2 separate regions of the Homo sapiens genome follow, and region 1 is linked to region 2. Evidence: fine-mapped expression QTL. A gene starts in region 2. The other region holds a variant in brackets. All regions are shown on one strand. Distances are from middle to middle.

Region 1 (5,384 bases), 36 kb before region 2:
GCACTCCAACCTGGGCAACAGAGTGAGACTCCGTCTCAAAATAAATAAATAAATAAATCCAAAACCTGAACAGGACAATACAAGTAACAAGATTGAAGCTATAATAAAAAGTCTCCTGGTAAAGAAAATTCCAGGACCTAGTGACTTCACTGTTGAATTCTACCAAATATTTAAAGAAGTACTAATACCAATCCTACTCAAACTGTTCCAAAAAATAGAGGATGAAGGAATACTGACAAACTCATTCAATGCTATCAGTATTACCCTGATACAAAAACCAGACAAAGACATATCAAAAAAAGAAAACTATAGGCCAATATCTCTGAAGAATACTGATGTAAAAATCCTCAACAAAATAGCAAACTGAATTCAACAACATATTAAACAGATCATTCTTCCAGACCAAGTGAGATTTACCCCAGGGACGCAAGGATGGTTCAACCTATGCAAATCAATCAATATGATACATCATATCAACAGAATAAAGGAAAAAAACCATATGATCATTTAAATTATGCTAGAAAATCGTGATAAAATTCAACATCCGTTCATGATAAAAATTCTCAAAACAGTAGGTACGGAAGGAACATACCTCAATATAATAAAAGCCAATATATGACAGACCTACAGCTAGTATCATACTAAATGGGGAAAAACTGAAAGCCTTTCTTTGTAAACCTGGAAGAAGACACGATGCTCACTTTCACCATTATTATTCAACATAGTATCGGAAGTCTAGCTAGAGCAGTCAGACAAGAGAAAGCAATAAAGGGCATCTGAATTGCAAAGGAAGAAGTCAAATTATCTTTGTTTGCAGATGACATGGTCTTATACTTAAAAGAAAAACTAAAGATTCCACCAAAAAACTAGTAGAACTGATAAATAAATTAGCAAAGTTACTTGATACAAAATCAACATATAAAAATCAGTGGCATTTTCATATGCCAACTGTGAACAACCTGAAAAAGAAGTCAAGAAAGTAATACCATTTACAAGAGCAACAAATAAACTAAAATATCTGGGACTTAACCAAAGATCTGAAAGATCTCTACAATGAAAACTATGAAACACTGATGCAAAAAATTGAAGAAGACAGCAAAAAATTGGAAAGATATTCCATGTTCATGGACTGAAAGAATCAATATTGTAAATATGGCCACACTACCCAAAGCAATCTGTAGGTTTAATGCAATCCCTATCAAAATATCAATGAAATTCTTCATACAAATAAAGTACTAAAATCTATATGGAACACAAAAGATCCAGAATAGTCAAAGCTAACCTGAGCAAAAATAACAAAACTGAGAAATCACATTACGTGACTTTAAATTATACTATGGCGCTACAGTAACCCAAACAGCATGGTACTGGCATAAAAAACAGACACATAGACCAAGGAATCAGAAAAGAGAACCCATAGATAAATCTATACATCTACACCGAACTCATTTTTTACAAAGGTGCCAAGGACATTCTTTGGGGAAGGGCCAGTTTCTTTAACATGGTGCTTGGAAAACTGGATAGCTACATGAAAAAGAATGAAACTAGACCCTTGTCTGTTGCCATATACAAAAATCAAATTAAAATGGATTAAAAACTTAAATCTAAGACCTCAGACTATGAAACTACTACAAGAAAACATTGGGGAAAGTCTCTAGGACATTGGGCTGGGCAAAGATATCTTGAGTAATACCCCACAAACACAGGCAACCAAAGCAAAATTACAAATGAGATCACATCAAGTTAAAATGCTTCTGCACAGCAAAGGAAACAATCAATAAAGTGAAGTGACAACCCATAGAATGGGGGGAAATATTTGCAAACTACTCCACCTAATTAGGGATTAATAACCAGAATATATAAGGAGCTCACACAACTCTATAGGAAAAACAAAAATCTGATAATCCAATTAAAAATGAGCAAAAGACCTAAACAGACATTTCTCAAAAGAAGACATACAAATGGCAAACAGGTCTATGAAAAGGTGCTCAACATCACTGATCATCAGAGAAATGCAAATCAAAACTACAATGTCATATCATCTTACCCCAGTTAAAATGGCGTTTATCCAAAAGTCAGGCAATAACATGCCGGTGAGGATGTGGAGAAAAGGGAACCCTCGTATACTGTTGGTGGGAATGTACATTAATATAACCACTAAGGAGAACTGTTTGGAGCTTCCTCGAAAACATAAAAATAGAGGTATCATACGATCCAGCAATCCTACTGCTGAGTATATACGCAAACAAAAGGAAATCAGTGTATCAAAGAGGTATCTGCACTCCCGCATTTGTTTCAGCACTATTCACAACAGCCAAGATTTGGAAGCAACCTAAGTGTCCATCAACAGATGAATGGATAAAGAAAATGTGGTACATAAACACAATGGAGTACTATTCAGCCTTAAAAAAGAATGAGATCCTGTCATTTACAACAACATGAATGAAACTGAAGGTCATTATGATAAGTGAAATAAACCAGGCACAGAAGGACAAATATCACTTGTTCTCACTTATTTGTGGGATCTAAAACAAAAACAATTGAACTCGTGGAGATAGAGAATAGAAGGATGGTTACCAGAGGCTGAGAAGGATAGTTGGAGAGGGGGAGTGGTTTGTAGGGAAGGTGGGGATGGTTAATGGGTACAAAAAAATAGAAAGAATGAATAAGACCTAGTATTTGCTAGCACAACAGCATGACTGTAGTAAAAAATAATTTAATTATACATTTAAAAATAACTAAAAGAGTATAACTGTATTATTTGTAACACAAAGGATAAATGCTTGAGGGCATGGATACCCTACTTACCCTGATGTGATTATTATGCATTGCATGCCTGTATTAAAATATCTCATGTAAGCCATAAATATATACACCATCTATGTATCCACAAATATTAATAATAAAAAAATTGTAAAAAGAAATGTG[T/TA]AAAAAAAAATCTCTAGAGTAAGTGGCTTATTTAATTTTAAATTTTAAGTTACCATATAAAAGTAAGAATACAGAAACATACAGAATTCAAGAATCACTATTCTGCCCTACCACCAAGCTTTGTAAATATTTTCCACAGCTAAAGCAACACTTTTTATTTGGCAAAACCTAGGTAAAATCATGGTTGATTTTGGTACACTTACCACTTTCCCTTTAATTAGTGCTCATCTGTTATTCACACATTCCCTTATTCTTTGATCTGTAAAACAAATCCTTCTTCCAATGCTAACCCTCCAGGGTAGAAGGTATTGCTCCTTCCAAGGATTTTGTGCTTTTACAAGATTAGTTTTTATCACTAGACTAATTTTGCTTAGAACAGAAAGTATATTAATTGTTTTATACCTACAGTTCCTAACTTAATGTGTGGCATTTAGTAAATGCTCATTAAGATAACTTCTTAAAATGAAGATTATGCAAATATATATACATACAAACATTTACAACCATCAAGAGCAAAATCAGCAATTCTTCAAGTTTACTCTCAAATGGATGCTATAAAACTTGATGCAGGAAATATAGAAAAATATGAGATACAGCAGAGGTTAATAAGGATGTAAATGTCTTGCTAAATTTATCCTAATAGTAAACTACATAAGGGTTTGCAAGACACTTTGCTTATCCCTTTATTTTTCAATCATTATGCATAACTACAATATATGTTCACTTATTGTCCTCTCCTACAACTGAAATCTACAAGGGGAGGAAAAGTGTATCACTTCCACTAGTATATATAACAATATCTAGTATGGAGTTCATATTCATTAAATGTTTATTAAATGAATAAATGATTGATGCTGTGGGGATAGCTAAGACCCACTTTCTGATCCCACATATCTTCATTTCTTAAATACAACCAAGCTAAAAAGTACTCGGTTCACTGGGCTACTAACTTTGTTAATGCATGTTGCAGGTAGCAAAAATAAACACAGAATCGTGTTTTAACATAAATATTACAATTACTACATAAAATAATTAGTTTCATTATTTGTTACCTGATTCTGAATTTGAAGCACACTTTGCTTTTGGAGAAACATTTTGATCTGCTACTGTCATCACTCTATAACAAGAACAAACTGTTTAGTGGTATTTTCTAAATCCTTCAGTAACTTTCAAAAACCCTCAAATAATACTTAAAATAAAGATATTTATTTGAGATTAATTATCCTGTGGGAAAATATACAGTTGCTTAGAAAAATGTTATGGTATTTATATGAACAAATAGTTTAATAAAAAAGGCAATATATTTATACATTTATGAGTGTGAAACAATATGCGTAGAGGACAGGGCATAGTGTTTAGAATAAGACAGACCTTGCTTTAAACTCCAGTTCCACTACTCACACTTGGGTGGCCTTTGGAAAGCTACTTAGCCTGTCTTGAGTCTTGGTTACCTCATTTATGCAAAAGGGATAGCAATCATGTTTCCTAAGATTCTTGTGGAAAGAATTTTAAGATACATGACAGATTGATTATTATTATTATTATATTATTATTATTATTATTGAGAGAGGGTCTTGCTCTGTTACCCAGGCTAGACTGCAGTAAAAGGTTTTTTTGAAATTAATATCCTGGGGTTTTTTTATTTTGTACTTCTACAAACTAGACAACCCCCAGTTCTATCTAAATGTGTAGGAAAGGACTAGCTATCACAAAAGGAATAAATAAGAAAGGATCAAAGCTCAGCCTCTGACCACAAAAATGGGATTTCTGAGTCCGTAGCAAGAAAATGCAGTTGAAAACCAAATGTGAGAAGGGAATTTTCTAAATTCCTACACTGATTAATTGAATAGTTGAACTCAGTAAACAGAAACAATTTTATTCTTTCATATTTCCTTTTAAACGTATCCTGTCAAAATAGTACCTTCTCGCCTCTGAATGAACTTTCAGGTAGATTTCTTTTTACTAACACCTTTCTGGCATTCTCTTGTAATAAGTAGCTATTTTTAGGTAACAAAAAGTTCAGTGTAATATTACAAATCCAAACTCTCCTTATGCAATTTAAATTTTTTCCTTTTCTCAGCTTGGGCATGATTTAGACTCAGAATATGCTGTGGGAAGAGCAACCACCATTGGTTTCATCTCTGTTTCTTGTTCTTTTCCCTTGCCTATTTGGAAACTACACTTTGGGTTCCTCTGGCAGTGAATTATAGGAAAGGAGTTTTAGAAATGTACAGGAAAGTCTTTCTCAATCTTGACTGATATAGTTATGTGCCATTGGTATCTCTGGGATATGACACATAATCAAATGTGGACCCTTTTAAACTTGAAGTATTCTGAAGGGTTCGTTGGAGGTTTACCTATCACTGGAGCTCTACCTATCACCGGAGCTCTCTCACTTGCTGCTTTTTATCATCTCCTCAGCTTTTGCCTTTGATGATGGAACCTCCAGCTGCTTT
Region 2 (5,384 bases):
CTATGAAGACACTGAAAGTCATATTTTTGAAGACTATTTAATGTATGGGAATATACAATAAGACAACTGGTCATTTTTTTTAAAGCACAGGAGAAAAGGAACAGAAATATATAAAAATTTTAAGAAACTTTCAAAACACTATTTTTTCATAGTATAAATACTCTACAAGGACTACTTTACACTGTTAAACTATGGATAAAAGCCTTTTAAAAAAATGTCTTGTGTTGAAACTGCCTTCCCCCAAAAACATGTTATAAAGGAATATTAAGTTAAAAAAAAATAGAACTTGGCCAGGTGTGATGGCTCAAGCCTGTAATCTCAGCACTATGGGAGGCCGTGGCGAGCAGATCACTTGAGGTCAGGAGTTCGAGACCAGCCTGGCCAACCTGGAGAAACCCCCTCTATACAAAAATTAGCTGGGTGGTGGTATACACCTGTAATCACATCTACTCAGGAGGTTGGGGCAGGAGAATCGCTTGAACCCGAGAGGCAGAAGCTGCAGTCAGTGAGCCAGGACTGTGCCACTGCACTCCAGCCTGGGTGACAGAGCAAGACTCTGTCTCCAAAAAAAAAAAAAAAAGGAACTTGACTATGAAGTTTAATGTTAATGTCAGATGAGTCACAAGCAATTTTTAAAATCTGAGCTTCCCTAAATTAGTGCTGTACAACTTTAAAATATAGTACAGAATTCATATTAAATACAGCACATCAAGAAGTTATAAAATATTCTAATGAATAAACATTAGAATGCTCTGTAACATATTAAACCCTTAGTAATGAATGTTTCCAGTTGTTAATGGAAAATCAAATGGAAAACATGAAAAAAGGAGTTATTAAGTAACATTTTGTATTTGTCATACAGAAAATTCACCAATTATGGACGTTTCTCCAAAAACGTGTCAAGAGAAAGAGAAAAACAAAAATGCATGACTATGAATCTACCCAAGTCAGAAATTCAAGGCCCTGTCTAAAGACACGTAAGTGTTTATAAAAATACTGGTGAGCTATGTAACATCTACAGAACAAAGCCCATTTTATTCTTTCATCCGGAGGTACATCAGGTACTGATAGTCTCTACACTAAGTGTGTCCAAGGACTAAAAGAGAAGCATACATACACGCAACGATGCAATCTTCTCATCCTGGGTGTCTTCACTAGACCTATTTTCTTGCAGGCTTTTCTCTCCTGTAACTCCTAAGCGAGGGCTAACAAAGAGACAACGCAATTAGTTTGCACCATCTGGATTTGGCTCTCCACGTCTCTGTTCAGACTCTTTAGAATCTGAAAGGCTCTTTAGGGACATCTTTAGGAAGAAGTAAGGACCAGAGTGGTGACTTGCACCAAAACCCAAATGCAGTGACACAATCGTATAGCTCACCGACCAATTTATCTCACTTCCTTTTACGTAAATTGGCAAGCCTTCCCCTTTTTAAAAATAAATCTTCCTGAAGTCAAATTTTGGGGTCCATGTTCTGAGAAGAGCAAAATCAGAGTACTGTATTTGTTTTGCTCCTTGACTGTTAGAATAAAAGGCTACTAGCAGAAAATTCGGCTTGAAGTTTTCTGAGGTGGCAAGCTAGGATCGGGCTGTTACTGGAGGCTACATACCTGAACGGCCCAGAGCCGCTACCTCCCTGCCTGCTCCGCTCTGCTTTCTCTGCAATCTTCGACAAGCCGTGCACTTTGCCTTTTCTCTTCGAACCTGAGAGAGGGCGGCACGTTTCAGGGCAAGAAACCTACCCACCGGCTTCGGGGGGGTCCTGGGCCCGAGGCCTAGCACCCCCGCCCGCCCTCGGTCCCGTCCCGGAGGCAGCTCGGCTGAGCTTACGGTGGGCGAGCCTTGAGCCTGTACCTGGCGGGGCCTCGGCCTTCGCTGGAGAGCCTAGGTCTGGCGTCGGGGTGAGATTGAGCCTCTGACCCTCCCGCTTTTTGCGGGTATAGACCCGTAGCGGCCACATTGCTATCCCACCCTACCCCCAGGCCACGGGTGCCTCTGGACTCTCGATGGCCTGCCTTCCTGAGGATCAGGGCTAAGTCACAGGGAGTCAGCGTCCAGGCGAGGCCCGCGGAGCAGCCTCACAGCAACTAATCGAGCGAAAGCAAAAGCCCCAGAACTGGAGCCGCCGGGCCTCGCTCCCGCGCTTTTATCTCTGTGAGGCCGCGCAGAGGCTTCTGGGAAAACGGAGGAGCGCGGCAGCCGCCCAGCCTTCCTATAGGGGCCCAGTGGTTTCTGGCCTTCTGGCGCAGGTTCCTTCAACTCCAGCGAAACGAGAGTTTTTTGGAAAAAACTTTTTCCTCGTCCAGAAAAAGGTTTAATTCAGCCCCTCCTCCTCCGTCTGAGCACTTAGGTTTCGCCTGTGGCTGCATGCTTAATTCAACTGGGCATGCAGGAGTAAAGGCGTTCCCTCCTTTGGGTGGGCCCAACACTTCCTCTGAGCAAGCTCTCCCTATCAGCACTGCATAAGGCCTTAGTAATGGAGTTTTAGGCCACCAGCACAGGCAGTCTTGTGAGGGGTTGGCCTCAGTGCAGGAAGGTCACAAAGAGGACTGAATGCACCTTAAAGTGACAAGGAGCTTCTCCCTGAGGAATCAACTTCAGTCCCCTGGGCCTGCAACTGACTGGGAAGCTATGGTAATTAAGAGGCTAACCAAGCCTCTGAAGATCCCGGGCTCTAGGAGGCTGCTTCTGGACGACAAACAGTCCCTTAGCCTGTGTCCAGGAGCCATCTCTAGACATCTGGGCATCCTTGTGGTTAAGGTAGAAGATTCCATAGGGGCTCTCCTCCTTGTGCCCTGGGCCTCAACTTGTTGCTGCACCAGACCGATCTGTTTCTTCTTCTTCTTCTTCTTTTCTCCTTTCTTCTTTCTTCTTTCTTCCCCTTCCCCTTCCCCTTCTCCTCTTTTTTTTTTTTTTTTTTTTTTAAGACAGGGTCTGGCTTGTCACCCTGGCTGGAGTGGAGTGGTACAATCATAGCTCACTGCAGCCTCAAACTCTGGGCTCAAGTGATCCTCCCACCTCTGTCTCCCGAGTAGCTAAGACTACAGGCACATGCCACCATGCCCAGCTGATTTGTAAATTTTTTTATAGAGACGGGGTCTTGCTATGTTATCCCAGCTGGTCTTGAACTCTTGGCCTCACGTGATCTTCCTGCCTTGGCCTCCTAAATTCTTGGGACTACAGGTGTGAGCCACCTTGCCCAGCCTTGGTTCAACTTTTATGTAACAAAATTGTGAGTTGTTTTTCAGTTGCCATGAACCCTGAGGTCATGTAACCTGAGCATGCCTAGATGAACCAAGCATGCAGCCACAGGGGAAACCAAGTGCTCAGATCAAGGAGGAGGGACTGAATTAAGAAGTAGATATGGCATGGCAGGATCCAACCGGGTTGAGCTCTGGCTTCATCCCATAGCAGGATCCAGTCAGATCATGCCTCCCAGCATCACCTCATTACAAGATCCAATCAGATCACATCTCTTTACCCTATGCTTATAAAAACCAAACCAAACCCCAGCTTAGGAAGACAGATTTGAGCATTTCCTCCTGTCTCCTTGCCAGCCCACTTGCAATAAAGCTTTTCTTTTCCCAAAAGCCAGTGCCATGGTATTAGCCTCTGCATTCATCAGGCAGTGAGCCCATTGACTGCTCGGTAGCAAACTCTTCTGCTCTGTCAATTAGAGATATGTTGGAATTACCTCCCTTTCTCTCCATACCCTAGGTTGAACCATCTGGCGACATCAGATGAGCATATTATGCACATAACAATAACCATCTTTTTATTCTAAAAAGTGGAAATATTTCATAACATTTAAAATGCAGTTTGAAGAGATAAAACTATGAAAAGCTTAAAGGTTTTTCTGTAACACCTCAGTCTTGTATGTGCGAATATAAGCACATATATATCCACAGTATTTTTGTAATATAATCACTGAATATTTTATTTAAAATCTGCTCACAGAAACATTTATGATAATCAATTTACTAGATAATTAATCATCAAAATCTAGCTTTCTAAAGAACAGATGGTAGGCATTCTTACCTGGTTTTACCTCGGGTTTTGAGTCATTGAATCAATATTTACTGAACACCTTAATCTGTATTAAGCACTGTGGTAGGTCCTGGGGATACAGAAGTGAATCAGAAATGGTCCTTCAGTTAAAGATCTCACAGCCTTGCTGCAGTATAAAGCAATTATCATCTTTCAACATTCTTTCTTTAGTCGTGTCCATAATATGCTGGCAGGCAGTCTCTAGTTTACAAGCCAGGCCTTTATGCTCCCCCCTCTCCCTTTGGGGGCTGTTGTGAAAAAAATTCAGACTTCTTAAATGACATTTGGGAGGTCTAGAGCCTGGGGTGCCTTAGGCCCAGAAATGGAAGAAACATTGCAAAATGAAAATAGGTTAAACCAAAAGCTGGTCTGCCATTTGGTGGTCCTGTTCCCTAGAACTCTGTCTCACTATACTGAATTACATTCACTGATATGTCATCAAGTAATTCCCATAGGTTTGTGGGAATTAACGTATCAGGTTTCAAAACCAGAAATAAACTTTGATATGATTTCTTTAGCCAAAAGGGTCCTTAGAGATGATCTAGATGCCCCCTCATTTTGCCACTGAGGAAACCAGAGTGTAGGGAAGCTATTTAAAACAGATGATTGGCATAGGGAACATGGTTCTCCTGGCATCTGGCTGCTGCGCTTGTCATACTCCCATTCTTCCTAACACATGGCTGGGAGAAAAGTAGGGGGAGCAAAGAGAGGAGCTTGAATTCCTTGGTGGCAAGGGGAAGTGAAGGAACTAGAGACAGACTTGGTCTCTTTGATACTTCACCTAGAGTCAACCTATAAAGGGGGAAAGAAACGTGTCTCCTAAAAAGGATGAGACAGGGCAGAGATATCTCAAATTCAGTCATCTATCTCCCCCTACTCCACTTCCAAATCTGCAAACACCAGTGCAAGTGTTTAATCATGAGTGTTCAAACTTCTTCCATTTCCCCATTGCACTGCTTCCATACCTAGACCCAAAACTCAGTAATCAGCATTTCATTTCAACACATGGTGGATTTGACTAGGCTTGGAACAGTCATGAAGATATTAACTTCCATGGGAAAACAAATGTCAAAGAGATTTCTGAATAAATCTTTTGGGAAAACAGCCAGTTTGTGGGTTTGAGATTCACTGGAGCCCAAAGTAAATCCTTTTGAATGATGTTTTCTTATGGAGTAACCCACTGAGCATCTTTGTGGTGCTATCCGTGAACTATGGGAATCCAACCACAAACCAGTTTATTTTTGCTTGGATGACAAGAATGGAATAAATTACAGTGAGAGAGGAAATATACCTTCAGGTATTGCAGTCTTAATGCTATGCAACACAAGAAAAAGGACCA

The links. PIP is the estimated chance that this variant, and not a neighbour inherited with it, causes the effect.
Region 1: its variant is the best candidate, but not a certain one, in a credible set for the expression of MEIKIN in blood mononuclear cells (TOPMed, PIP 0.51).

Annotation. Positions count from the first base shown.
Region 1 is chr5:131,907,835-131,913,218 of GRCh38, forward strand. It overlaps MEIKIN (meiotic kinetochore factor), which reads right to left. Exons shown (of 13, transcript NM_001303622.2): 8 at 3,981-4,045. Among named protein-coding and RNA genes, the nearest start is that of MEIKIN, 35 kb to the right of the region's middle. The variant T/TA (reference allele first, on the strand shown) is at 2,929.
Region 2 is chr5:131,943,548-131,948,931 of GRCh38, forward strand. It overlaps MEIKIN (meiotic kinetochore factor), which reads right to left and starts at 2,116. Exons shown (of 13, transcript NM_001303622.2): 1 at 1,853-2,116; 2 at 1,609-1,702; 3 at 1,118-1,205. The coding sequence starts at 1,958.